7 linked regions of the Homo sapiens genome follow. The protein of the gene in region 1 purifies or fractionates together with the protein of each later gene. This does not show direct contact. Each region holds a gene or a part of one and is shown in the gene's direction. Other genes may lie near its edges.

Region 1 (3,500 bases):
TGCATGTCTCAGACGCAGAGCACTGCTCCCGTGGCTGGTGCCTCCTCTTACGAGTGTCTATTGGGGTCATATTAGGGGCCAGGCGCTGTGCTGGGCGAGGGGATGGGGGTACAGTAGAGAGCATGGCGGACAGAATCCCCACCTCGTGCAGCTTACATCCCATGCACAGTCACACGGTGTGTGACCATACACAGATATCTCAGGATCTATGTGCTCTGTGAGATAATGAGGGCTGCAGAGAGAAATAGACAGGATAAGTGGGACCAGAAGGCCTGGGGCGGGCAATTGCCATTTTATATCGCATGGCGAGAGAAGGCTTTGGGGGTGGGGGAACTGATGCTGGTCTTGGTCCCACCTGATGTGCTTGGGCATGCCATGGAGGCTCTCTGGGGACCTCAAAGCAATCCAGTCCTTTGGAAGAATGTGTGTCTGCTCTGCAGTAGCCTTGATCCAGCCTCGGGATGACTGTGCCATTGCTTTGGGTCCATGAATGGGTAAAAGGCTGATGTTGAGTGAGTCCCACCCTGTCCAGACTCTTATTCCTGGTTTCACCTGCGGCAAACCGGCCTGCAGGATCTCAGTCTCAGAGGAAAAACTCTTCCCTCACCGACTCCCCCTTGCATTCGTCCAAAAGAAGGCAGGACCCCATTGGCCCCGGGGATTTGGTGCAGGGACTCCATTCACAAGCTGGCAGTCGTCTGGCCAGGCCAGATGCAAGGCCATTTAGCTCCAAGATCCTGACTCCTCCCTGGGCCTAGGCCCAGCGCCAACTGGAGCCTCTGCCTGGAACTGGCCCCATGTGAGTACTCAGAGTTAAATATGACTGATGCTTATTGATGAGTCAGTTTCTTGCCCACTCACTGACTCTGACACTGTGCCTTGTCTTTATCACTCACCCTTGTTCTCTTCGAGCATTTCTCACTTTTCTCCCCAAGATTCAGGTCACTGTGGTGGAGGGTGTTGTGATGTGAGGAACTCACAGCCACTCCTCCCTGGCCCAGAAGAAGGGAGGGTACGCTGTGTGTGTGGGCACTGCAAGGTGAATTGTACTTGACAGGAGTAAGGAAAGGGAGGCTGACAGGGCCTGCAGGAATGAAGTTTCCTTGGGAGACCTGTGTGCCGCCAGCCCCCTTCCCCAGCCTGGTTCAGCCCTGGTCTCCCTGGGCAGCAGTTTGCGTGGGGTGCATCTGGCTCAAGCTGACTTGTTTGTTGTTGTTGTTGTTGTTTGTTTGTTTGTTTTTAAAGTCCCAGCACTTGTTCTGTTTTCCAAGTGAAAAGGAACTATATCTCCACCTTCTTAGAGTTTCTGCTGTTCAGGGTCCTAGGGAATCTCCTGGAACAGTTGTTCTGTTGTGCTGGTTGTGCAGACCTGAGATTCAAGTAAGGAAGCCCTGATGTGGTTGGTGTGAGTAGCTGGGATTACAGGTGCTTGCCACCATGCCTGGCTACTTTTTTGTATTTTTAGTAGAGATGGGGTTTTGCCATGTTGCTCAGGCTGGCCTCGAACTCCTGAGCTCAGGCAGTCCGCCTGTCTTGGCCTCCCAAAGTGCTAGGATTACAGGTGTGAGCCACTGTGCCTGGCCATGTATATTCCTTATTATATACCATTATGCAGTTCCATTCGGAGAAGAGCACAATGAAAACTCCACTACTCTTCCAACTCCTGACTGACGGGAGCCGTTCATGTATTCCTTCTTGGCTATTTCTAGTTTACAAGCACTCAGCTTAACTGGCAACACTCATTATGTTTACTGAGTACCTACTATGGACCTGGTCCTATGCCAGGCTTTGGAGAGTCACCAAGATGATGAAACCTAGACAGGATCTTCACAGTGTAACAGGGAAGATAGACTTGTAAACGGGCAATTGTGACAATGGGATAAGCACTCTGATGCCTAGACGAACTACCGTGGTGATGCAGAGGGACAGTGACCAGCGCAGACAGTTGGGACTTCACAGGGAGAGGATCCTCCCCTTGGGTCTTACAGGACAAATAGAAGTTTACCAGGTGCACAAGGGGAGGGAGGAGCAAGTCCAGAGGCACACAGAGCTGGAATCATCCGATGCTTTGGGGGAGCTGCAAGGAGTTTGGTGTGACTGGGGCTTGGGCTGCTGGAGGGTCAGAGGAGACAGCACTGAGATGGTAGGCAGGGGCCAGGCGGAGGCACGTGGACTTTGTCCAGGGGGCCAGGAGTTCCTGAACCTTGCTTACCATCAGGATTGCCTGGGGGTTTTCATAAATACCGAGCACAGAGCACTATTCCATATCTGCTGAATCTCACGCTTCAGGGAGTGGAGCTGGGAATTCTCTCTCTCTCTCTCTCTCTCTCTCTGATATTTCTGACAACCATCAGATGTGAGAACAGTTGCCATAGGCAGTGAGGGTGCCCTAAACGGTTTTAAGCATGTGGATGATATGGCCCGATTTGCAGAATTAATTGGTGGAGTGGGGGTGAGCATAGAACAGGAAGACTGGGAAAAACCAGTATGGGTCTGAACCAAGGTAGGGACAGTGGGGAAGGATTCTGGAGCAATTTAAGAGGTAGGTCTTCACAGGGCTGGATGGGGCTTAGCAACTGATTGACGTGCAGAGGGGAGGGAAGAGGTTGGGTGATGAGTGGATAGAAGGATAATTCATGACCCAGTATAGGGGACAGAAACAGAAGAGTGGGTTTGCATGGAAGACAGTGAGTTCAGTTTGGAATTCATTGAGCACTTACTATGTATAGTCCAAGAACTGCTCTAAGCATTTATGCGCATCACACCTCATTTATTTATTTATTTATTATTTATTTATTTTTGAGATGGAGTTTCACTCTTGTTGCCCAAGCTGGAGTGCAATGGTGTGATCTCGGCTCACTGCAACCTTCTCCTGCCAGGTTCAAGTGATTCTCCTGTCTCACCCTCCCAAGTAGCTGGGATTACAGGCGCCCGCCACTATGCTGGGCTAATTTTTGTATTTTTAGTAGAGACGGAGTTTCACCATGTTGGCCAGGCTGGTCTCAAACTCCTGACCTCAAGTGACCTGCCCACCTTGGCCTCCCAAAGTGCTGGGATTACAGGTGTGAGCCACCGCACCCAGCCTCACACCTCATTTATTCTTCACAGCAGCCCTTTTGGAGACAGGTCTCAAAGCCAGGCAGTCTGGTCCCAGTATCTGTGCCCTAAGCCAGAGATACTATTTGGCTCCTTAGATGTGAGGTACTTATAACTTCCCAGTAAAAACTGCAGTGGGATGTCTGGATCTGGAGCCTTTGAGATCATCTAGTTACAAATGTCTGTTTGTGAGTCATCCAGCTAGACTTCAACCTCAGCCTGGTGTTTGGATTCTCAGTCTGTCATCTAAGAGCAGCGTGACATTGTCCTTAATTTCGGAGCCCTGGTTTCCTTGTCTGAAAAATGTAACTAATGGCTCCTCCCTCCTGGGTGTTGTGGAAATTGAGAGAGGTGCCATATATCATGTGCCTGCTATTGTTTCCAGCACAGAATGATGCCAGGAT
Region 2 (3,500 bases), on another chromosome or scaffold:
CTCTCCTTGTTTTTTACCAAACTACTTTCATTGTTTGATATCCAACTAAAGAGATTATTCCTAGATGTATTTTTCTCAAACCTTTATTTACTGTAGGCTTGGTTTATCTTTTTTTGTCTCTCTTCTGTGGAGCTATGCATTGTTACTGAACATCAATCATCTCTTGAAGCATGGAGGAAAAGGGAGATAATGTAGCTTTCCTTTTGTTTGTAGAAGTTATATCGTGGTGACAAGGTTTAGCAGCACAGAGCATTTGAGTATTGGATTCTCAATCCTCTAACCCACACGTTAGAATTTCACATACGATGTTGTCCCACTTCCTACCTCTAGCAAGAAACCTCGAATTAAATGTACTCATGACTTTTCTGTCCTTCAGCTCTGATTTGCTGTTTCTTTGCTTACTTTATATTTTTTAGTAGTATGTTCCTTATTGAGATGCTACTTAAAGCTGTTTAACTCATATGTAAATATATGTATTTCATTAAGCCAGATTGTTACTTGTACAAATAAACATAATTTTTACTTATTCTGTTGTTGAATCATAGCTGAGAACAAAAGTAAAGTTACCATAGAATTTAATTATTTTTGTTTCCTTTTTATTTTAGATTTCTATGTTTGAAAAAGGGAAGGTACCTAAGATTGTCAACCTAAGGGAAATACAAGACGACATGCAGACGTTGTATGTAAACACAGCAGCTGATAGTTTTGAATTCAAAGCTCATGTTGAAGGAGATGGTGTAGTGGAAGGGATTATCCGTTATCATCCATTCTTATATGATAGAGAAACTTACCCTGATGATCCATGCTTTCCATCAAGTATGTTAATCTGTTATCTTAGTTATAAAATATGAAGTTGTAATTTAGGACAGTGATTTGTTTTTCTAAATGATTATCGGTTGGGTTATTCAGGTTAGATAAATATTAAATTTTTTCTTATGCAAGTCTTAGATTGTTAGGTATTTGTAATTTTTGTAATTCCTGATTTTTGTGTACATTCATTTCTAGATGAATAAATCTTTAATGAACTCTTCTTTTAGTTCTGTTACGAAACCAAACTTTTAGATATGTATGCGTATTAATCCTTTATATGTTCCCTTGTCTTCTCTTTATCCTTGTTGCAGTTTTACACTTTATGCAGTCATATTTACTAACTTTTTCTTTATGCTTTCTGATTTTGTCTTACTGTAGAAAGGCTTTTTACATCTCAAAATTATATAAATCTGTAGCTTTTTTGTTTTTGTTGTCATTTTATGGTCAATGCATCTGTGTTTTTCTTTTTTGTATGTAGAGCAAGGTGGGGTTTTATTTATTTATTTAAATTTTTGAGTGATGGGGTCTTGCCGTGTTGCCCAGGCTGGTCTTAAGATCCTGGCCTGAAACAATCCTCCTGCCTTGGCCTCCCAAAGTACTAGGATTACAGGTGTGAGCCACCACACCTGGCCCCCACCTTTTTTTCCCCCCCCAGTAGAGAGATAGGGATTTAACAATTATTTTCTATGTGGTATTCATATTCAGTTTCTTAGCACCAGTTATTGAATGTTATAATTTACCCAAGAGTTAGAACTTGTATAATACAAAGTTCCCATAAGTACATAGGTCTAGATTCTTTACTATAAAGTACTATTTTATTTTTTTTTAATATGAGTAATGATACTGTCTTGTAGCTTTATCTTGTAATTTGGTATCTTTGGGAAAAAACATTTTCACTATTGTTCCTTTTTGAGAATACTTTTGCTCTTCTAGATAATTTTGGAATCAGCTTTGTACATTCACTTGAAGTAATTCTAGTGAGATTATTGGGATTGCATTGAATTTATAGGTTAACAATATTAAACTTTTTCATTCAGAATACTTCCTTAGTACATTCTTGGTTTTCTAGGGCCTGCAACCAGAGATCCTGATTCGAATCCCATCTTTGCCACTTTCTGTTGGACAAACTACTCCCTGCCTTAGTTTCCTTACCTGGGAAATGGGTAGTTCACACCTCATAGGGGTGTTGTGAAGATCAAATTTAAAAACTGGGGCAACTTCTCAGAATAGTGCTCAACACTATTTATTAAGTGCTCCTGCCCAGTACATATTGTTACTCAGTGGCTCCACTGGCCTTTTTGGTTTTGTTTTTTATTTTTTGGAGACAAAAGTCTTGCGTTGCCACACACGCTGGAGTGCAGTGACACAATGTAGGCTCACTGCAGTCTCTGCCTCCCAGGTTCAAGCAATTCTCATGGATCAGCCTCCTGAGTAACTGGGACTACAGGTGCCCACCACCATGCCAGGCTAATTTTTTGTATTTTATTAGAGACAAGGTTTTGTCATGTTGCCAAGGGTAGTCTCAAACTTCTGAGCTCAGGTAATCCTCCCACCTCAGCTTCCCAAAGTGCTAGGATTACAGGCGTAAGCCCCTGTGCCTGGCCATCTCTGACCTCTTAAATTTGCTGTTTCCAATTTTTGTGTGCTAATAGACAAAAAGATATAATTTTTTTCAAATGCTGCCTTAAAAAGAAGAGCAAGTAAGTTGAGTGATCAATCAGAGGGATTCTCCTCTAAGAGCAAAGTGATTTTGTTTGATTGAAAGCAGCTTTTATATAAGGGACTTCTTGTGAGGGCTTTTAGGGAGAAGGTTTTGTTTTAGGTGGGTAAACTAATTCCAGGGTAGCTGAGGTGTTAATATGTCAGGATCACATTGTTTAATCCTAATTTATCTGGATACACGAGAGTGTGTTGCTAATAAACATAAGATTATAGACAATTGTGCAAATTAATGCTCTTGATGCATAGTAACATGTCTTACAGTTCTGTGTACATTTTTCATGCTTACTTGAATCTGAAAATAATTTCTAAAAAGTAAACTTAATTTTAGCATCATTCACTAATTTGTTCAAACTAGGTAAACTCGCTGCTATTAGATGTCATAGATTTCTCAGATGACTTTCATGTGAACATACTAGTTCTGATAAAATTGTGAAACTGTTTTAGATACGGGATTTAAGCTCCTATATTTGTAGGAAGGAGGGATTTTGTTATAGGGGATAATCTTTTTGGATGTAAGACTCTTTTAGCCTCATGAATAGGTTTTAAAGATGACAGGCCCAGCAGCTAGTACATTGGTTCATATATAAGTAATTATTGACTTCTAAATGACAGACAGCATTCGTAATGTGGAACCACTTTGTAAACCTACCTTTTTGTGGGCAAACAGTATAAAACTACCTTTAGGTTTTATAGAATGCAATTTGAAACATTTATGTGTTTGTTTCATTATTTCTCACATTTTAGCAATAAACATTTTGTTCCATTTGCCCTTTTGATCTAGAATTAAAAGATGAAGATGATGAAGATGATTGTTTCATACTTGAGAAAGCAGCTAGAGGGAAAAGGCCTATTTTTGAATGTTTTTGGAATGGACGATTAATACCATATACATCAGTTGAAGAGTAAGTTTGATTTTTGCTGAAATTATGTTTTTACAACTTAATTCTTTTACTAACTAACATTTTGTT
Region 3 (3,500 bases), on another chromosome or scaffold:
AGCAAGAGGAGATGCCTGGAGGAAAATATGTGGTGCTTGATTAGATTTGGAAACATCAGTATGAGCTTCAAGTTATTGTAATAGATATAAAAATAAATATAGGTATGTGCATATGCATAAGTTAATATACATATATGTGTTTCCTGAATCTGTCTGCCGAAAGGACATAGAAACAGGGACACCTCAGTGACAACAAGTGCGCCTAGCACTCAGATCTTGGTTTTTAAATACCATTCTCAATGAAAGGAACCAGGATTCCTTGGAGAAGTGGCTGATTTCAGGGCTAGGTTAAGGAAAATACAGAAGGAACCTGGAGCCAGTGCCAGGAAATAAGGATGTGCTTTAAAAGCAAAACAAAACAGTTGGGCCGCGTCAAAAGGACACAGAAGCAACCTGAGAAACTTCCCCCTGGCTGGAGCTAGCATTATTTGAGCAACAAAATAACAGTGGTATTGGATTATAACCAAGGAATGAAATAAATATCTGAGACTATATGATACAAGTAAATAGATGGAAAAGATGGGACAAGTCTTCCCTACAGAAAAGTTGAGAATAACAAAGGCAAAAGTAATAAGAGAAATAGAAGATCACCATTTAAATGCAGTAATTGCTGCAGGCGATATCCACCGACAAATGCTAAAGTTAGCAGGTAAAACTTAGGAGGACATAGGATGTCTACATATTCTCCAAACATCTTGTCTAAAATGTTTATTAATTGCTGTGGTAGTTTAACGTATGCCTGGATTCTTTAGTACCCCTCCTTCTGGGAAGTGGAGCTTAATTTTCCTCTGACTTTGGGCTGGACTTGGTGGTTTGGATCTAATAAAGATGGAAAGGTTAAAGTGGCAACTTCACAGTGGAGAAACCTGGAAAACACTACTTTGACCAAGTGAACACGGTTAACATAAACAGTAATAAGTCATGTTAATGTCATGTACCTCTTGATAGAGTACTACCAGAAGAAAGCTTGACCTCTGGTAGTCTTCCAAAAAATGTGTAGCCTTAGCCTAATCATGAGAAAACATCAGGCAAACCCCAAATGAGGAATATTCTACAAAATACAAAGGAGACTTGATGGCCAGATTCAGTGTATCCTGGTACAGAAAGAGGATATTAGTGGAAAAACTGGTAAACTCCAACTCAACTCTGTAGCTTAGTTAACTGTATGTTAACATTAGGGGAAGCTGGGGAAAGGGTATATGTGAACTGTGTATCTTTTCAACTCTTTTGTAAAGCTAAAATTATTTCAATATAAAAATTAGAACAAACATACAGAGAAAACATGTAAATGAATGGATTCTTAGAAAACTACAGGTGTAGAAGAGCTGAGAGATGCAGGTATGGTTATGATGGCCATAGCCAAGTAATAATGTGACCCTTCAGTTCTAAATGCCCTGAGGAAGCTGAGTAATTCAGGGACTGTCCATTTTTCAAAATCATTAGAAAAGTCTAGATTAGAACAGCACTTTCCAGAGTACTCCTTGGAAGTCTGCTGTTCCCTTATGATGTTCCAGGAAAAAGTGGTTCAACTGGAGTTGGAAAATCCTGCATCCTTTAGCCTTTGCTTGAGAATTGATTGTATATATTAGCAAATTAAAGAATCTGAAAAGCCTTTTCTTACGGGCTGATTCTTGTCATTTAACTTACTGTTTCCCAAATATATTTTATCCCAGAACCCTTCTTTTCTCTTATGGTAATATCCTGAGAAATTAGTTCTTGAATGGGCAATTCTAATCTAGAAATATCTGGTGTTGTCTAGGGATCCCTAACATCTGTTGTTTACAGCCAGCTTTCAAATGAGTTGATCGTCCAACTTTGGAAAGTGGAGAAATGAGCCAAATGGCTTTTTCTCTTGATCTGTTCTGCTGCTTTCAGGGACCTTGGGTAGGTGAGGGGTTATAACTTGTTTATCCTGTGCACCATGGTGTCTCAGTAGCCTATAAAGCGCCTATTAGACAGATTCCTTTCAATGAAATATTAACTATTTCAACATCTTATTTTGGAGTTCACTGCCAATTGCTTGGCTGCGTCTAAAACAATCACAGATTAAACACTGGATGCTAATCTTTGTTTTAGCTGTGTTGGATTGCATAGGAATCTTTCAGATAATCCTTTATTTTCTTATATTAAATGCATGTAGTGGTACATGCAGCCTATTGTTTGTTCCTGGCTTTTTAGGCTCCAAGAAATCAAGCGATAATTTTGTCAGTTATTCATCCCCTAGTCTTCCCAGGTTACAAAATGCAAACTCTGATGCTTATTATACTTAGTGTCAATAGTGGTCTATTTTTAGCCAGTACTATTGTGGAAGTGAAGTGATGCCTCCAGAGATATCAAACACTGGCCAGGGTGTGTGTTGTTCTTAGTTTTTTTATTGATACCTTGTTCATTTTCAGTTTTAAAATTTGAGTCAGTGATTGCAAAATTGCTGGATTTAAGTACTTGTCCATTCTATATCTGGCTGATTTGTATTGTATTTGTAGACTGAAGGACTAAATGTGGCAATGACTATGAAACAGCTCTTATTTGATGAAGAGAACTGCAGTGATTGTTTTTGGTTTTGGTTTTGGTTTTCCAGAGTTGCTACGATGGAAGTTAAAGGGAAAAAGCAATTCACAGGAAAGAGTACAAAGACAGCACAAGAAAAAAACAGATTTCATAAAAATAGTGGTAAGATATGCTTCCCATGTGGGTGTTTGGCTGTTATAATTGGGGGATGGGAGGGCATGTAGTAAATTTCAATCTGTATTCATTGGCTAGGATTAGGATTAAAATAGTAGGAAGAAGTATGTGTTATTGTGTATGAGTTAACATGTTGCTCATGACATTTAGACACTTAAGAAATTGCAAGAATGATTGAGGAATGCCTTATTCATGAAAGACTCCTTATCTCAGTTGTTGCTGCTGTTGCCTCATTTTATTCACACTAGTTCACCATACATTTTATTTTAACATTTGATAAATTAGGACTGTTTAATACATACTGCTCATAAGCCAAATACGTTTAGGTTCAGAATTTATAATGGTGATGTCTTTATTATTCCATCAGGTGTCAGTATTGTAAAACAGAAAAGTCAAGGGACTATACAAATGATTAATGTTTCCTTAATGTTAGCCATTACTGTTTGCATCTCATTTGTTAGGTACTAATTTGTAAGCCTTCTTGATCAAAAGTTTTTGATAAATAATTTTAATATAGGCTTTAAAATTTTCTTAAAACTAGAAAATTTTAAAATTAACATTTTAGATGTCCTTATGATATACTTTCCAAATTTCAAGAATGTTCAAGAAGTCATTTCTTAAGACTTCTTTTGTTATTGAACTCTTGAAAATTCTGTGTAGACCATCATTAAAGCAGAATACAAAGGTATATAAATAATAGCTCTGCTATATGCTTAAAACTAGAGAAACATACCAAACTGACACCAGTGTTTATCTTTAGTGGTAGAATCATGGGTAGCTTTTATTTTACATTTCTCTACTCTCTAGGTGGTTTTATA
Region 4 (3,500 bases), on another chromosome or scaffold:
CTGATATGGTCATGTTAGTATGTAAGTAAGCTATCTGGGTGTCTGCCTATTAGAGTGATGTGTGTGTATGTGTACATGTGCATGTTTGTGTATATATACACATATATTAATGTAACTGCAATTACAGTAACAGTCCTTTTCATCAAAAAATACTATGTCAGTGCTTAGATGCATTTCAGGATGCCGTGTAGCTATCTTTTGGATTAATTTATTTATGTCTTAGGATCCATATCTTTTTTTTTTAGTAATGATCCAATTTTGGTTTTGTTTTAGATTTTTGCTACTCAGTTTAAATAGCAGAGTTGGGTAATTGTGGATTTTTTAAAATTGCATGTATATGAAGCACAGTTGTAGATTACTGACCCTTTGTAGTATATACTGGGATTTTCTTTGGAGATTCACAGAAAATCACATTTTGATGTGTTGATGATTTTCTGAGTAAAGGAGTTAGTCTGAATACTGCTGGGATACTTGTATGGTTGGTTCCTAGGGCCAAAATTGAAGAGCCATAAATTTCCATCTTTTAAATATTTTACCTGATGTTCATATAGAAAATATTCATTCTTTAGGATATATTTTAAGCTGATAAATTTTGATTGTGTGATAGAGGTATAGATTTATTACTCCTAATTTAGATTACTTATTTTTGTCTTTTGTATGAGCATGATAAATGTAAAGTGGCATTGTTACATTTGATTTGATTTCTGTGGCACTATATCTGTATCCCTAGTACCTAACAAAATACTTCATACATAATAAATCATATTTAATGCCTATTGAATGGAGATGATGTTGCCACCATTTTCAGGAAAAGCTTTTGTGTACAGATTAAAATTAGATAATCGTCTTTTATGTTCCCATCAATACACCCTAGCTCAAGAGCTACTTATTTTTCAAATCCTGCTTCCTAAACATTGTTAATAACTCTTCACCCTGTCAACTACCTAGTTTTTTTGTTAAGATCCAAAGAAAACCTGCTTATAGTAATATGTGTTTAATTTTTCTGTCACACTTATTTTGATCTATACTGGGATTAATATTATTCCCATTCTTATCCTGCATTGTTAACTTCCCTATCTTTCCATCACCATGTTTATTCCTTGCCTGGGAGGGGTGGAGGGGGCAGTCAGGCAGTGTAACTGTTTGTAGAATTCTTTTTAAGTTCTTCAAATATCTTCTACTAAAATATACTTCAATCAGTATGTTACATGCCAAAAAATATGTTGTTAAAAATTTTATTAGACTATTACCCTAATGTATAGTGTCTCTAAATTAAAATAATAAAGTTATGAGATCCTTTAAGATTGGCATAATCTCCCAGCATTTTGGGAGGCCAAGGTGGGTGGATCATTTGAGGTCAAGAGTTAGAGACCAGCCTGGCCAACATGGTGAAACCCCACCTCTACTAAAAATACAAAAATTAGTTAGGCACTGTGGCAGGCACTTGGTAGCCCCAGCTACTCAGGAGGCTGAAGCAGGAGAATCGCTTGAACCCAGGAGGAGGAGATTACAGTGAGCTGAGATTGTGCCACTGCACTCCAGCCTGGGTGACAGAGCGAGACTCTGTCTCCAAAAAAAAAAAAAAAAAAAAAAAATTGGCATAATCATCAACTAACACATGCCTTCAGTGTTATTAACAGCTTATTATCAGTAATTACAAACATATTTGATTTTGTTGTTTTTTTTTTTAACTCCAGAGTGTCTCAAAATATCTTTGCTTTATGTCTAAGGAAACCATTTTTTCTTCTCTCTCCCCCTACTTCTTTCCAACTAGTATATCATTCTCCATTGTGTGGACTCAGTGCTTTCAAGAAATATCCGTATTATTTGTTATTTGACATCATCCTTTAAACTGAAGAGTAAAGCAGTTTCTGAAAGTAGTCTTCACTGGGAATGTATCTAGCAGCTTTAATAGTCAATAGCGATTAGCCTATATTGCTCACTTGATGAGCTAATGATTGCAGGCCTTACTAGCGACAGTGATCGCACTTCAGTTATCTACTGTTACAGTTACACTACTAAATGCTGATAACTATCATCAGCTGGTTGCCTTTTACTTAGCACTGAACCAGTCTAGTTAGATGGTGTTTAGGATCCTCAGCTTCTGCAAGTCTGAAAGTATTGTTTCTGAGAGTGAATTTATAGCACAGTTTATTAATTCCTAAATGAGGAATTTTCGGTGTTTTCTTTAAAGTAGATTGTAATATTGAATAATATTTAATGATGCAGTGGAAATTTATTTTGTTTCATTTGTACAGTTTTATAAAATACCTTTCTTAAAAACTCAAATTTTCAGTTTCTGTAAAGATTGATATCAGTGATATCTTTAGGAAATGTTTGGAGAAAGTTTATTACAGAAGTTGGCATAATCTGTATCTAGCTCTTGTGACTTTAGAGCAGTATTTTGAAAATTTGTACTCATGATTTCCATTTGTAGAAATTTTCCAAAGTATGCTTAATAGATTGTTCATACAAATATTGCTTAAAAGAAATGCATTAAGTAGAAACCTTTTTATAAAAACTAAAGTTTGCTGGAGGTATTCTCTCTCCTTTCCATTCTGTCTCTTAAGCCAGCCCAAAGACATAGTTTCTATAGGGTTCTTGTGTCTGTAGAAATAGGTATATGATTTAACAGCTAAGGAGCTAGCAAATATTAATTCTGTAAGACCCTGTGCCTATTTATGAAGAAATAATCTTTGACATGCTAAATTCCCTTTTATATTCTAAAAAAAAAAAATTTAATGAAACCCTTCTTTACAAGGGCCTGATGTGAAATTAAGAGTATGAATACCTACTAGTATTACACCACCAATAAAATGGGTTTTTTAATATGGATCTCTCTGTCTTGCCTATAAAAATATTAGCGTTTTCTGGCTGTAATGTATCAATTTTTAAAAATTCTCTTTTAAACTTATTACAAATTATAGTACAAAGAGAACTAATATCAAAACCCTGAATAAGCCTTAACCTTTCAAAGCTTGGTTCATTCGCTTTTAAAATAAAGAAACCAATTTCCCTCCTACTTTATACAGTTATAAAGACAAAAATGAATGTTGTTATAGTAAAAGCTAAAGTATGTCTGATTTTTTTATATAAAGGAAAGTACAGTCATTCAATTTCTAATTGAATTGAATTTATCTAATGAAGAAAGTAATTTTTTAAAATAAATCTTTTTATGTATCTGTACTTTATATTCAGTGTAGATTTAAAGATATTACTGCCACAATTTATTTTTCTCACCGTGTATACATATCAAGGAAAGAATCATTTGATCCCTGCCCCCTACTTTTCTGTAATGAGTAGTAAGTTGTTACTTACATAATGAGTAGTAAATTGTCATTTACATGCAGTATTGAAAATTTTTTTTTGCCCCCACTTACCTCTAATTGAAGTTGAAGATCCATTTGGTGCTTCTGTGTTATATGGGTAGGTTAGTGGAAGAATTGTCACTGAACTATTCCATTATGCCTGCCCAAGTTTTTTTTTTTTTTTTTTTAGGA
Region 5 (2,788 bases), on another chromosome or scaffold:
GGCTGGCCAGCAGAGGGAGACCTGTCTCTACAAAAAATCCAAAAATTAGCTGGGTGCAGTGGTACACGCCTGTGGCCCTAGCTATTCAGGAGGCTGAGGTGGGAGGATTGCTTGCGCCCAAGAGTTAGAAGCTGCTGTGAGTTATGCTCCAGCCACTGCACTCAGCCTTGGTGACAGAGCAAGACCCCGTTTCAAAAAAAAAAAAAGTTCCACATTCATCACAAAACACTCATTTGCATTTTTCTTTTGTCCTTTGAGCCTTATTTATTTATTTTTTTAAAAGACCGGGTCTCACTATATTACCCAGGCTGGCCTGACCTGGGCTCAAACATCATGCCCAGCTACTTTATTTACCCTCAAATACTCTCCTATCTAACTGGCTACTTTTTTTTTCCTGTTTTTTGGGACAGGGTCTCTGTCACCCAGGCTGGAGTACAGTAGTGTGATCTTGGCTCTGCACTCCCATCTCAGCCTCTCAAGTAGCTGGGACTACAGGCGTGCAACACCATGCCTGGCTAACCGCCTACTTTTTATTTCCATAGACTTTATGGCACTAGGCTTTGTAGAAAAATATTAAGGGGTTAGTGTGTGGTGTGCTTTTCGAGAAAATGCTCACGAAGATTAGAAAAACACTGATGGTTTATTGGCAAAATCAATAATCTGTCAGCAGTTGATTCTTTTTTTTCTCTGAATTAGCCCTCTTATGAGTAATCTGTTTGCTCATTCATTATAATTTCATACCTCTAAAACTGCGTGTGACAGCTGTAAAGGTTAATTCCAGTATCATGAAACGTCTCCAAACCAAAGCAGAAGTGCTTCAGGATCCTGATTTGTGTGTTTTTTTCTTCACTCTAGGTTTCCCTTTTATGCTTACTACTCATGCCCCTCACTTGGAAAGTCACTTGGCCTCCTGAACAGCACTAACTCCAAACGTTTTTTTTGTTGTTGTTGTTTTTTTTAGAGATGCAGAGGATGCTATTTATGGAAGAAATGGTTATGATTATGGCCAGTGTCGGCTTCGTGTGGAGTTCCCCAGGACTTATGGAGGTCGGGGTGGGTGGCCCCGTGGTGGGAGGAATGGGCCTCCTACAAGAAGATCTGATTTCCGAGTTCTTGTTTCAGGTATGTTCCTTTCAAACAGAATGAGATGATACATGTAAAATACTTAACACAGAGTCTGTCTTCCAAGAAATGATAGCTGTTATTCTTCAGTGCATGGGACACGGGGGCTTTCTTTTCAATAGCCTGTGTGAAGCCTTGCCCTGGATTGCCAATGAGGAAAGTATCCTGCAAATGAAATTGCGCTGGGAGTGCAGCCTTGGAAGAACATAACCATATTTCTTGTAAAGGAGTTTTCTAGTGGTGAGAAGGAAAGATGATGGGAAAACTTGAGCTACAATTCTAAAGATGCTTCTTTTGGAATATACTTGGCATCAGACATGGTAGAAAGGCATTCAAGGAGCCAGATTTGAACAACTTACCCAGCCTTGGATCCTGAAGAAGATCAGATTTTGTGGTGGTTTTAGAATTAAATATTTTTTAAAACCCCGTAACTTAAGAGTCTTAGAGATTTTATTGGAAAGTATAGACTATTTCTGTCTAGTGTTTATAAGTGATGAAATGCTAAACTGGGAGGTTTATCTATCTTCAAAATATTAACACACTGGAAAGACCTGGGGCCTTCTGCATATTGCATGGGAGTTTTAGGGCCCTGGTGGAATGAAATAAATCGAGGAGCCTGGCACCTTTTTAAGATGTGAATGTCACACAATCACAGCATACTCCCATGTGCTTAAGAGTGATACTCTCAGTATCTGCCTATCTTGTGTCCCTTTGTAATTTTTTAACCCCAGAACTCTATTCCCTCCTTCAGGATGTCATACATTATCTTTTTTTCTCTCCATGCTGCTCTGAAATCCTGCTTAGAAAACTATTAGGAAATGGCTGCAGTCCTGAGCTGTGAGCGGTAAACACAGCCTTTGAGAGCAGGAGCACATTTCCCTTTCATGACATCAGGTAGGGTTGTATGACTCCCGACTAGTTTTAGCATCTGAGTCTTACCTTCCCCCCCACTGTATTGAAGAATGTTGGTGATCTTTTAAGAGGTACTCTGTATAGTTTGTCATTCATACCTACAAGAAAACAAACTTTAGATTTTTTGTTGTTGTGTTGTTACCTTCAGCTACTCTTTGGTTATTTCATGTCTGGTTTCAAAATTCCCATGTCCTGTGAAACCCTGTCAAGCAATAAATAATTGGTACTGTTAAATTTCATAATGGAAAAAATTGGAACTCAAAGTATTAGGAGTTTGGCATTGATTTTAAAGGACAAAGAAAGAGGCTATGAATTCTCAAAGATACTAAACCTGTAATGGGATGGACTTCTTGCTCTGTTGAAAAGGCCTGGTCTCTGGAAGATGAACTTAAAACCAGCTTCTCAAGGTGGTTCATTTACCACACATACTTCAGTGCTCTTTTCTGATTTCATGTCCCTTATCAAGGTTTATGATTTGGGGACCCTCAGGATTTAAGTGATCATGGAGAAAGGACCATAGGTATTGCTGGCTCTTAACAGGGCAGTTAACATAGCTGAAGGATGTGGGCTTTCTTATGTTCTCCATGCCTAGGACTTCCTCCGTCAGGCAGCTGGCAGGACCTGAAGGATCACATGCGAGAAGCTGGGGATGTCTGTTATGCTGATGTGCAGAAGGATGGAGTGGGGATGGTCGAGTATCTCAGAAAAGAAGACATGGAATATGCCCTGCGTAAACTGGATGACACCAAATTCC
Region 6 (4,010 bases), on another chromosome or scaffold:
ACACTTCTCTGACCTGAGGTATCGGTAGCACTGGAATGATAATCCCCCCGCCCCCCTCGACTTGCAACACTGCTTTATTTGGGGTCAAGGAAACACACAGCCCCAGCTTCTCTCCCATCACTCGGCCTCCCCTCTTGCAGATGCCACTATTATCCAGCCACTTGCACGGGCCATCCATGGCTGACCATGGAGTCATCCTTGAGCTTCTCCTTCTCTCAAGGCTCACATTCTTCAGCAAGTCCTGCTTTCACTATTAATTGAGAATCCTCGTTTTCTCAGTTCTTCTCTGCCAGCACCCCAGTCTCAGCCACCCTTGTCTCTCACTTAGGACACTATGGTAGCCACTTGGCTGATCTCTCTGCCTCCACTCTAGCCACCACGCAGCAGCCGGAGTGATCCTGTACATGTGAATCACACCGTGGAACCCCACTTCCTAACCCTCCAAGGCTATCCCCTGATATCCTGGGGTTATCAGGTTACATGTCACCGCCCTATAAACCCTCCCTGAGCCGCCACAGCTGGACTAGGAGCCACTCCTCATCTGTTCCAGGAACACAAGTATATTCTTTCCCAGAGCACCTATTGCCCACTGTGTTCACCATAGCTCCGTGAGCTCAGCGAGGGTTCAGTGAGTGAGTGCATGGCGCCTAGTAAATATTCCACAAAAAAAACTGTGAGTGTAATTGTTTCCCCCACATTTCTAGACATGTAGTATTAACAGATCAAGGAACAGAAAGCAAAACAGGGAAAGCAACGTAAAATTCTGATAATCACAATGATTGCTGAAAAAGTCCCCAAATAGGCAGCAAACATTCTAAAGGGGCCACAGTTTGTGAGTCATTTTATTCTTTTGTAAAGGGTCGGCTTGCGGCAAAAATTAAATGATCTTTGCGTTTGGGCAAGGTCTGGTGCCCCAAAGCTGCCGACTTGATCTGCGGTTGGGGCGAGCGGCAGGTAGGGGGCCCGGAGTTAGGAGGGGGTGTGGGAGCCCGTGGAGCACAGGTGAACTGAGGCCGCCTTCCCGGGGCGCCGCTGGCCAGCCCCAAAGGGTTACTTTGGCCTTGGCTGTGGGCCGAATGCGAAGGTGGGGAGGTGGGCGGGGGATGACTCTGCCATTCCTGGGTCCGCTGTGTTAGGCTGAAGGCAAAAGGAAACCAAGGCCTGGGAGTTTTCCAGGAAACGAAAGCGAAAGAGTCAAAGTTAGCGGCCCGGAGTTGGCGCGGCCCCTGCAGTCCGGCGGAGAGCGGAGCTGAGGATGGCTGTGCCCGGCTCCTTCCCGCTGCTGGTCGAGGGCTCCTGGGGCCCCGACCCCCCGAAGAACTTGAACACCAAGTTGCAGATGTACTTCCAGAGCCCGAAGAGGTCGGGAGGCGGCGAGTGTGAGGTCCGCCAGGATCCCAGGAGCCCATCCCGCTTCCTGGTGTTCTTCTACCCGGAGGACGGTGAGGGGCGCGAGGGGTGGGGTGAGGAGGGGGCACCTCTGCCCTCCCTCCAGGGAAATGGCGGCAGGGCACGCACGGGAGGGTGACCCGCCCGACTTCGGCGGCTGCTGTAGCGGAGGTGGCCGGGGCGGGGGCGGGGGCGGGGGCGGCAGAATGGATTCCGAGCGCACCCGGGGCGCTGCGGTTCCCCGGCGCCCTGCGCTTCCAGGCGCTTAATGGCGCGGCCCGGAGGTGGCGGCGGAACCGCGCAAGTAACTCTTTATCCCTCGATCGTTTTCTGTCTTTCCCTGTTGTGGTGGTGTTATTGTTTGTTGTTGTTGTTGTGGAAGTGAGTCTATCCTCTTATCATCCTTTTCTGTCTTTTCCTGTTGTTATTATTCTTGTGTGGGGAAGGAAACTGATTAAGAAACGTGGCAAGTCACAGAGATTCCTTGTGGTTCTTGGAGATTCCCAGGGGTCCCGGGGTCACTTGGGAGAGGGGCAGAGGCGCTACCTAAAATCACACTGCCTGAATGTCAACGTAGAGCCGTCACAGCGGCCACATTGGAGGGGCTGTCGATCGACCACAGGTGCCCATTGTCGAGGGCCTGCCGGGGCCTCTTCTCCGAGTCTCTAGTGGCCCTCAGATTGGGAGCAAGGATGATATTCTGAAGTGATTGTGGGTTGGGAGATTTGAGCTTTGGAGGGAAAGTCGGCAAAGTTCCCTCCTTACAGACCCACCACTACTTGGTGGGCCAAGAGCCCAGAGGTGATCTGCTGGCTCAAGGGCCTCCCTGGTCTGCAATGGGAAGCCAGTGACCTGCAGCTCCCAGAATGGGCACCTTTTCCACTGGCATCTTATGGATGATGACCTATCGGGATCTAGTCAACCCCTAATTCCGCTTTCATGTCGCTAGATTTGGAGAAGCATTCGGGCCAGAGGAGAGGCAAGGAGGCTGAGGCTGAGGCCATGCAATTAGAGTGCCCAAGCAGGGATCCAAAAAGGAAAAATGAAACAGAAAAAGAATGGCGCACAGAAGGAAGGAAGGAGGGGGACAGGAGATATGCTTGGCTCATGGCCCTTATGAAAACAAAATACCATGTTTTCCTAGGATTAATTTTACCAAGGAGTGCTCAGAAGGGCAACTGTGTGATATTAGTCATTTCTCTTTTGGGTGTCACTTTTCCTTGAGGGTTTTCCCCACTTTGACTTCAGAGGTCAGCATCACCATCGATCTGGCCCTTAAGGATGCTTCTTTCTCCTTTAGATTCCATTATCCTTAGAAGTAGGTCTGACCTGCATCTGAATCACCTGGAGAGCAGGTTAACCAGGCACCTTCCCAGCTCTGTTTTAGAGATTCAGGTTCAGTGAATGTGGGGTGGGTGGGAAGCGTGTATTTAACCGGCAGCCCAGGTGACCCTAATGTGTTCAAGTTTCAGAATTTCCGTAGTTAATGTTAACCCCAAATGAACAAAAAGAAATAATTATACAAATTTAAACAGCATGAAAATACAAATAGCACAAAGTATAATTTTGTGATGATAAAATAACTCAATTCTAGCCCTCCAAGCAGAAAAGATTTCAGTCTTCCTGCTGGGCTTCCATCCTTGACCGGCCCCAGCCCACTACTCCTCTTCCTCCACCCCCAGGCTGCTCCAGTGGCCCCTCTTGTCTTACCCCCCAGCACAGATGACCCAAAACTTATTAAAACTCAAAACCGGCCGGGCGTGGTGGCTCACGCCTGTTAATCCCAGCACTTTGGGAGGCTGAGGCAGGTGGATGACGAGTTGAGGAGATCGAGACCATCCTTGAGCAACATGGTGAAACCCTGTCTCTACTAAAACACACAAAAAAATTAGCCGAGCGTGGTGGTGTGCGCCTATAGTCCCAGCTACTCAGGAGGCTGAGGCAGGGGAATTGCTTGAACCAGGGAGGCAGAGGTTGCAGTGAGGTGAGATCGCACCACTGCACTCCAGCCTGGCAACAGAGCAAGACTCCATCTAAAACAAAACAAAAACAAACAAACAAAAAGAAACAAACAAACAAAAACAAACTCGAAACCTAGTATGGTCTAAGTTCTTGGGGGTGGAAAATCCCTAGTCAGTTTCAGTTTCCTACTTGAGGAACCACTTTCTCAGTAACAAGGGTCAGGAATTTGCTAACAATGAATGACCTACGCTTGAAGTCCCAGAAGTGCATTCTTCTTCTGCAGAGGACACTCTCCACCCTCCATGCCAGGAAGTGGCCTCAACAGGTGCGGGCCCATAGCATAACCTGATTTGATTCATATAAACTGTAATAGGCAGATAACAAGAATGAGCCCACCAGCACTTCTCCGTATTTATTCATGTATAGCAAATAGAAACAAATGGGAAGCTGTATCTCACTTTTATATAGTTCACTGGATTTCTGAAAAGTTGGTGTAAATTGACATAACATTTTAAGCCCTGTTTCAGATGTGTCTATTTTATCATACTTTACCAACATAGTTTGGTTCCTGGTTGTTGTCGGGTTCCTTGTGGTAAGAACCCATCTTCTCCTTAAATAAAATTAAATGTTGATGATCTAAAGTTGGTGCAGGTGGAAGA
Region 7 (3,500 bases), about 93 Mb from region 1:
AATAGTTTTTAGATTATATTAACAAAGTGGTATTTGGAAAAAGTAGGCATCTTGAACAGTCTTCCAAACTGATCTACCCCATCCGCCATATATCTCAGTTGTTCCTGGCTCACCAAAGAATTCTAAATCCTTGTTGTCTAGGAATATGAGACAGTAATGAAAGGCTTGGACCGTAATGCTCCCTCGGTGCCTCCTCAGAATACTCCTCAAGAAGCTCAACAAGTAGATATGTGGAAGAAATATATACAGTGGGAAAAGAGCAACCCTCTTCGTACAGAGGATCAGACCCTTATAACAAAAAGAGGTAACATGATTAACCCTCATGGGACTTCAGTTACATGTATGTTAGGCCACTTGGTATCCCCATAGGTTACTAAAATTTTCTTACCCCTAATCTTTTTTTCTTTTGTTCTTCAGATTCAATAATTCCTATAGATCTATCTCCATATTCACTGAACCTTTGTTTTCATCATATGCAGTCTGCAATTAAGCCCATCCAGTGAACGCTTTATTTCAGATACTATATTTTTCAATTCTATAAATTTCCATTTTAGAAATTTTTTATTTTTTATATTTCTTTTTTATGGTGTCCATTTCTTAGTTGAGATTCCTTGTGTGTTCATTACCATCTTTTTCTTTGTTTCTTAGAACATATTTATAATAGTAGTTATAAAGTCCTCATCTGCCAATTCCAACATCTGGGCCTTCAACCACCATGGAGTTTATTTTCTTTGATTGCTTTTTCTCTTGACTGTGGTTTACATTTCCCTATTTCCTGTTTAAATTTTTTCTTTTAGATATTGTACAAATGTACAAATGAAACATTGTAAAGACTGTAGATTCTGTCATCTTCCTCTGAAGAATGTTTTATTTTAGCAGGAAGTTAAATACTACTGTCAGATTACTTGGACTTTGTGGAGGCTTAGTTTTATACTATGAAGACAGGTCTGTTTTAGTTTTACCATTAATCTCAGATTAAATACCTTATTCTTGGGACATAGTCTTTACTCCTAAGACAATGAAAAGTCTAAGGTGTTTACCCCAACCATCTAATTGGATCGGACTCAAATTCTAAACTTCATCTCCCTTAGTTGCTGAGGTATCTATTTAACTCTTTCTGCCTTCCAGCTTTGTTTTCTGCTGGTCTGTTTGTATTCTTCCCTGTGTATGTACATTTTAGGGATCAGCTGAGGATTTGAGAACATTTATGCCCAGATTTTCGGGATCTGGCTTTCTCCTTTTGGGGATGTCTCCTCAATTTCCAGCTGCTCTCATAGGCCAGAACTCCATGTTACTTCAAGACAGTAAGACTGCAGCATTTGACTTGAGTTCTAGCTATCCCAGAAGTGCACAACATGGGCATGCGTTTGAAGGGAAAAGCCATATTTAAATATGGATCTCACCTAGTGTTGTTCTGTCTTTTTAAGGGCTCAGTCTCCTGATTTCTGCTTCTTTTGGTCATTTCCAGTACATTTAGATAGTTGCTTTTGTATTTGTGTTTTGTTTATTTATAATTTTTACTTGCTGAGGGTTGGTCTGATACAAACTACTCTGTCAGTGCCAGACTCTTAATTTGGAGCTTTATTGAATTCCTCAATCTTGCCTTGCTGTTGCCTTGCTATCTTACTTGCAGGTCTTTGCAAATATTGTTTCCTTTGCCCACTCCATTTTTGTATCTACCCCATCCTTACTCCACTTCACTTATTTGCCTCTGACCAGCTTCATCCCTTCTTCAGGTGTTGTGCTAGATGTCAGTTCCTTAGTGAAGCCTTTCTTGAGTCCCTAAACTATGTTAAGTCCTGCTGCTGTAAGTTTTCAGAGTATACTGTACTTTCATCATCATAATCCTTTTGATCTTTGCTTTCTGTCTGTCCTCCCCGTATACTGCAGACTTCTTGAATATAGGAAGTCTTACTCACTGGTATATTCACCGTGCCTTCCACATTCCCTGGCATATAGTTGGTGCTCAATAAGTATTAACTTAGGCTGGGTGCAGTGGCTCACATCTGTAATCCCAGCACTTTGGGAGGCTGAGGCAGGAGGATTGCTTGAGCCCAGGGGTTCAAGACAAGCCTTGGCAACATGGTGAAACCCCGTCTCTAAACAAGATTTTTTTTTTTTTTTTTGAGATGGAGTCTTGCTCTGTTGCCCAGGCTGGAGTGCAGTGGCGTGATCTCCACTCACTGCAAGCTGTGCCTCCCGGGTTCATGCCATTCTCCTGCCTCAGCCTCCAGAGTAGCTGGGGCTACAGGCACCCACCACCATGCCTGGCTAATTTTTTGTATTTCAGTAGAGACAGGGTTTCACCATGTTAGCCAGGATGGTCTCGATCTCCTGACCTTATGATCCGCCTGCCTTGGCCTCCCAGAGTGCTGGGATTACAGATGTGAGCCACCGCACCTGGCCACAAGATTTTTAAAAATAAGCCAGATGTGGTGGCACACGCCTGGTCTCAGCTACTTGGGAGGCTGAGGCAGGAAAACCACTTGAGCCCAGGAGGTCGAGGCTGCAGTGAACCATATTTGTGCCACTGCACTCCAGCCTACGTGACAGAGACCCTGCTTCCAAAAATAAAAAAAATTAATAAGTGATGGATAGATGGAGGGAACTTGGATGGATGATGGTGCCAGAAATCACTAAAGCTTTTTATTTCTAATTATCATTAATTTTTGAGGAGCCTAATTTGGTTATGATATTTACATTGATAGTTTTACAAATAATAATTATTTTAATTGAATATTGTTTGTTAATTTCTTCCCTTAGTTATGTTTGCTTATGAACAGTGCCTGCTTGTGCTGGGCCATCACCCTGATATTTGGTATGAAGCTGCCCAGTATCTTGAGCAGTCAAGTAAACTGCTCGCAGAAAAGGGAGTAAGTGTTCCTTCCCTATCCCCACTTTGATATTTTTGTGGTTTTGATATAGCAATTATTTACTGAAAAATATAACTGAATTTTGGTAATAAAGCATAAGTATTGAAAATTTAAGTTTACGTTCATATGAATCTTAGTGACACTCATATAATTAGACCTCCTTAGAATTAAAATAAACTGGCAGTTTTTTAACGTATCAAAGTAATGAATCATTTAGAGTACTTGCATGGTTATTTTGTAAGTTAAAATAATGAAAGGAGTTTTTGGAATTTTTTTAGAATCCAGAAATGCATATGTGTTTATGTATGTGTGTGTGTGGATACATATATATGTGTGTACATACATGTATGCTTTCTTAGACACATAAATAAAATAAAGTAGATGTAACTTTATTAATTTTATTCTCTCACAACTATATTAAAATTATTGAAGATGAGCTTTCTTTTTTTTCTACCAGGATATGAATAATGCCAAATTATTTAGTGATGAAGCTGCTAATATATATGAAAGAGCCATAAGCACTTTATTGAAGAAGAATATGCTTCTTTATTTTGCATATGCAGATTATGAAGAGGTAAGTAAAAATGTTTAGAGCCTTCTTATAATTCAATTTTTTAGTGCAGGACT

Evidence for each region.
Region 2: the proteins of DCPS (region 1) and SMCHD1 purify together in Homo sapiens (affinity purification with mass spectrometry, with the first as the bait; one large-scale study listed by BioGRID). This does not show direct contact.
Region 3: the proteins of DCPS (region 1) and PUM3 purify together in Homo sapiens (affinity purification with mass spectrometry, with the first as the bait; one large-scale study listed by BioGRID). This does not show direct contact.
Region 4: the proteins of DCPS (region 1) and NIPBL purify together in Homo sapiens (affinity purification with mass spectrometry, with the first as the bait; one large-scale study listed by BioGRID). This does not show direct contact.
Region 5: the proteins of DCPS (region 1) and SRSF9 purify together in Homo sapiens (affinity purification with mass spectrometry, with the first as the bait; one large-scale study listed by BioGRID). This does not show direct contact.
Region 6: the proteins of DCPS (region 1) and PARP14 purify together in Homo sapiens (affinity purification with mass spectrometry, with the first as the bait; one large-scale study listed by BioGRID). This does not show direct contact.
Region 7: the proteins of DCPS (region 1) and CSTF3 purify together in Homo sapiens (affinity purification with mass spectrometry, with the first as the bait; one large-scale study listed by BioGRID). This does not show direct contact.

What each region holds. Positions count from the first base shown.
Region 1 is NC_000011.10:126,331,560-126,335,059, forward strand, and holds part of DCPS (m7GpppX diphosphatase), read left to right. Parts: intron 1-3,500. UniProt on the Homo sapiens protein: Decapping scavenger enzyme that catalyzes the cleavage of a residual cap structure following the degradation of mRNAs by the 3'->5' exosome-mediated mRNA decay pathway.
Region 2 is NC_000018.10:2,697,226-2,700,725, forward strand, and holds part of SMCHD1 (structural maintenance of chromosomes flexible hinge domain-containing protein 1), read left to right. Parts: intron 1-605; coding exon 606-816; intron 817-3,313; coding exon 3,314-3,434; intron 3,435-3,500. UniProt on the Homo sapiens protein: Non-canonical member of the structural maintenance of chromosomes (SMC) protein family that plays a key role in epigenetic silencing by regulating chromatin architecture.
Region 3 is NC_000009.12:2,837,596-2,841,095, reverse strand, and holds part of PUM3 (pumilio homolog 3), read left to right. Parts: intron 1-2,578; 5' UTR 2,579-2,588; coding exon 2,589-2,670; intron 2,671-3,500. UniProt on the Homo sapiens protein: Inhibits the poly(ADP-ribosyl)ation activity of PARP1 and the degradation of PARP1 by CASP3 following genotoxic stress. Binds to double-stranded RNA or DNA without sequence specificity. Involved in development of the eye and of primordial germ cells.
Region 4 is NC_000005.10:36,988,269-36,991,768, forward strand, and holds part of NIPBL (nipped-B-like protein), read left to right. Parts: intron 1-3,500. UniProt on the Homo sapiens protein: Plays an important role in the loading of the cohesin complex on to DNA. Forms a heterodimeric complex (also known as cohesin loading complex) with MAU2/SCC4 which mediates the loading of the cohesin complex onto chromatin.
Region 5 is NC_000012.12:120,463,961-120,466,748, reverse strand, and holds part of SRSF9 (serine/arginine-rich splicing factor 9), read left to right. Parts: intron 1-961; coding exon 962-1,122; intron 1,123-2,626; coding exon 2,627-2,788. UniProt on the Homo sapiens protein: Plays a role in constitutive splicing and can modulate the selection of alternative splice sites. Represses the splicing of MAPT/Tau exon 10.
Region 6 is NC_000003.12:122,679,629-122,683,638, forward strand, and holds the start of PARP14 (protein mono-ADP-ribosyltransferase PARP14), read left to right. Parts: upstream 1-1,210; 5' UTR 1,211-1,255; coding exon 1,256-1,442; intron 1,443-4,010. UniProt on the Homo sapiens protein: ADP-ribosyltransferase that mediates mono-ADP-ribosylation of glutamate residues on target proteins. In contrast to PARP1 and PARP2, it is not able to mediate poly-ADP-ribosylation.
Region 7 is NC_000011.10:33,098,981-33,102,480, reverse strand, and holds part of CSTF3 (cleavage stimulation factor subunit 3), read left to right. Parts: intron 1-141; coding exon 142-304; intron 305-2,763; coding exon 2,764-2,873; intron 2,874-3,330; coding exon 3,331-3,447; intron 3,448-3,500. UniProt on the Homo sapiens protein: One of the multiple factors required for polyadenylation and 3'-end cleavage of mammalian pre-mRNAs.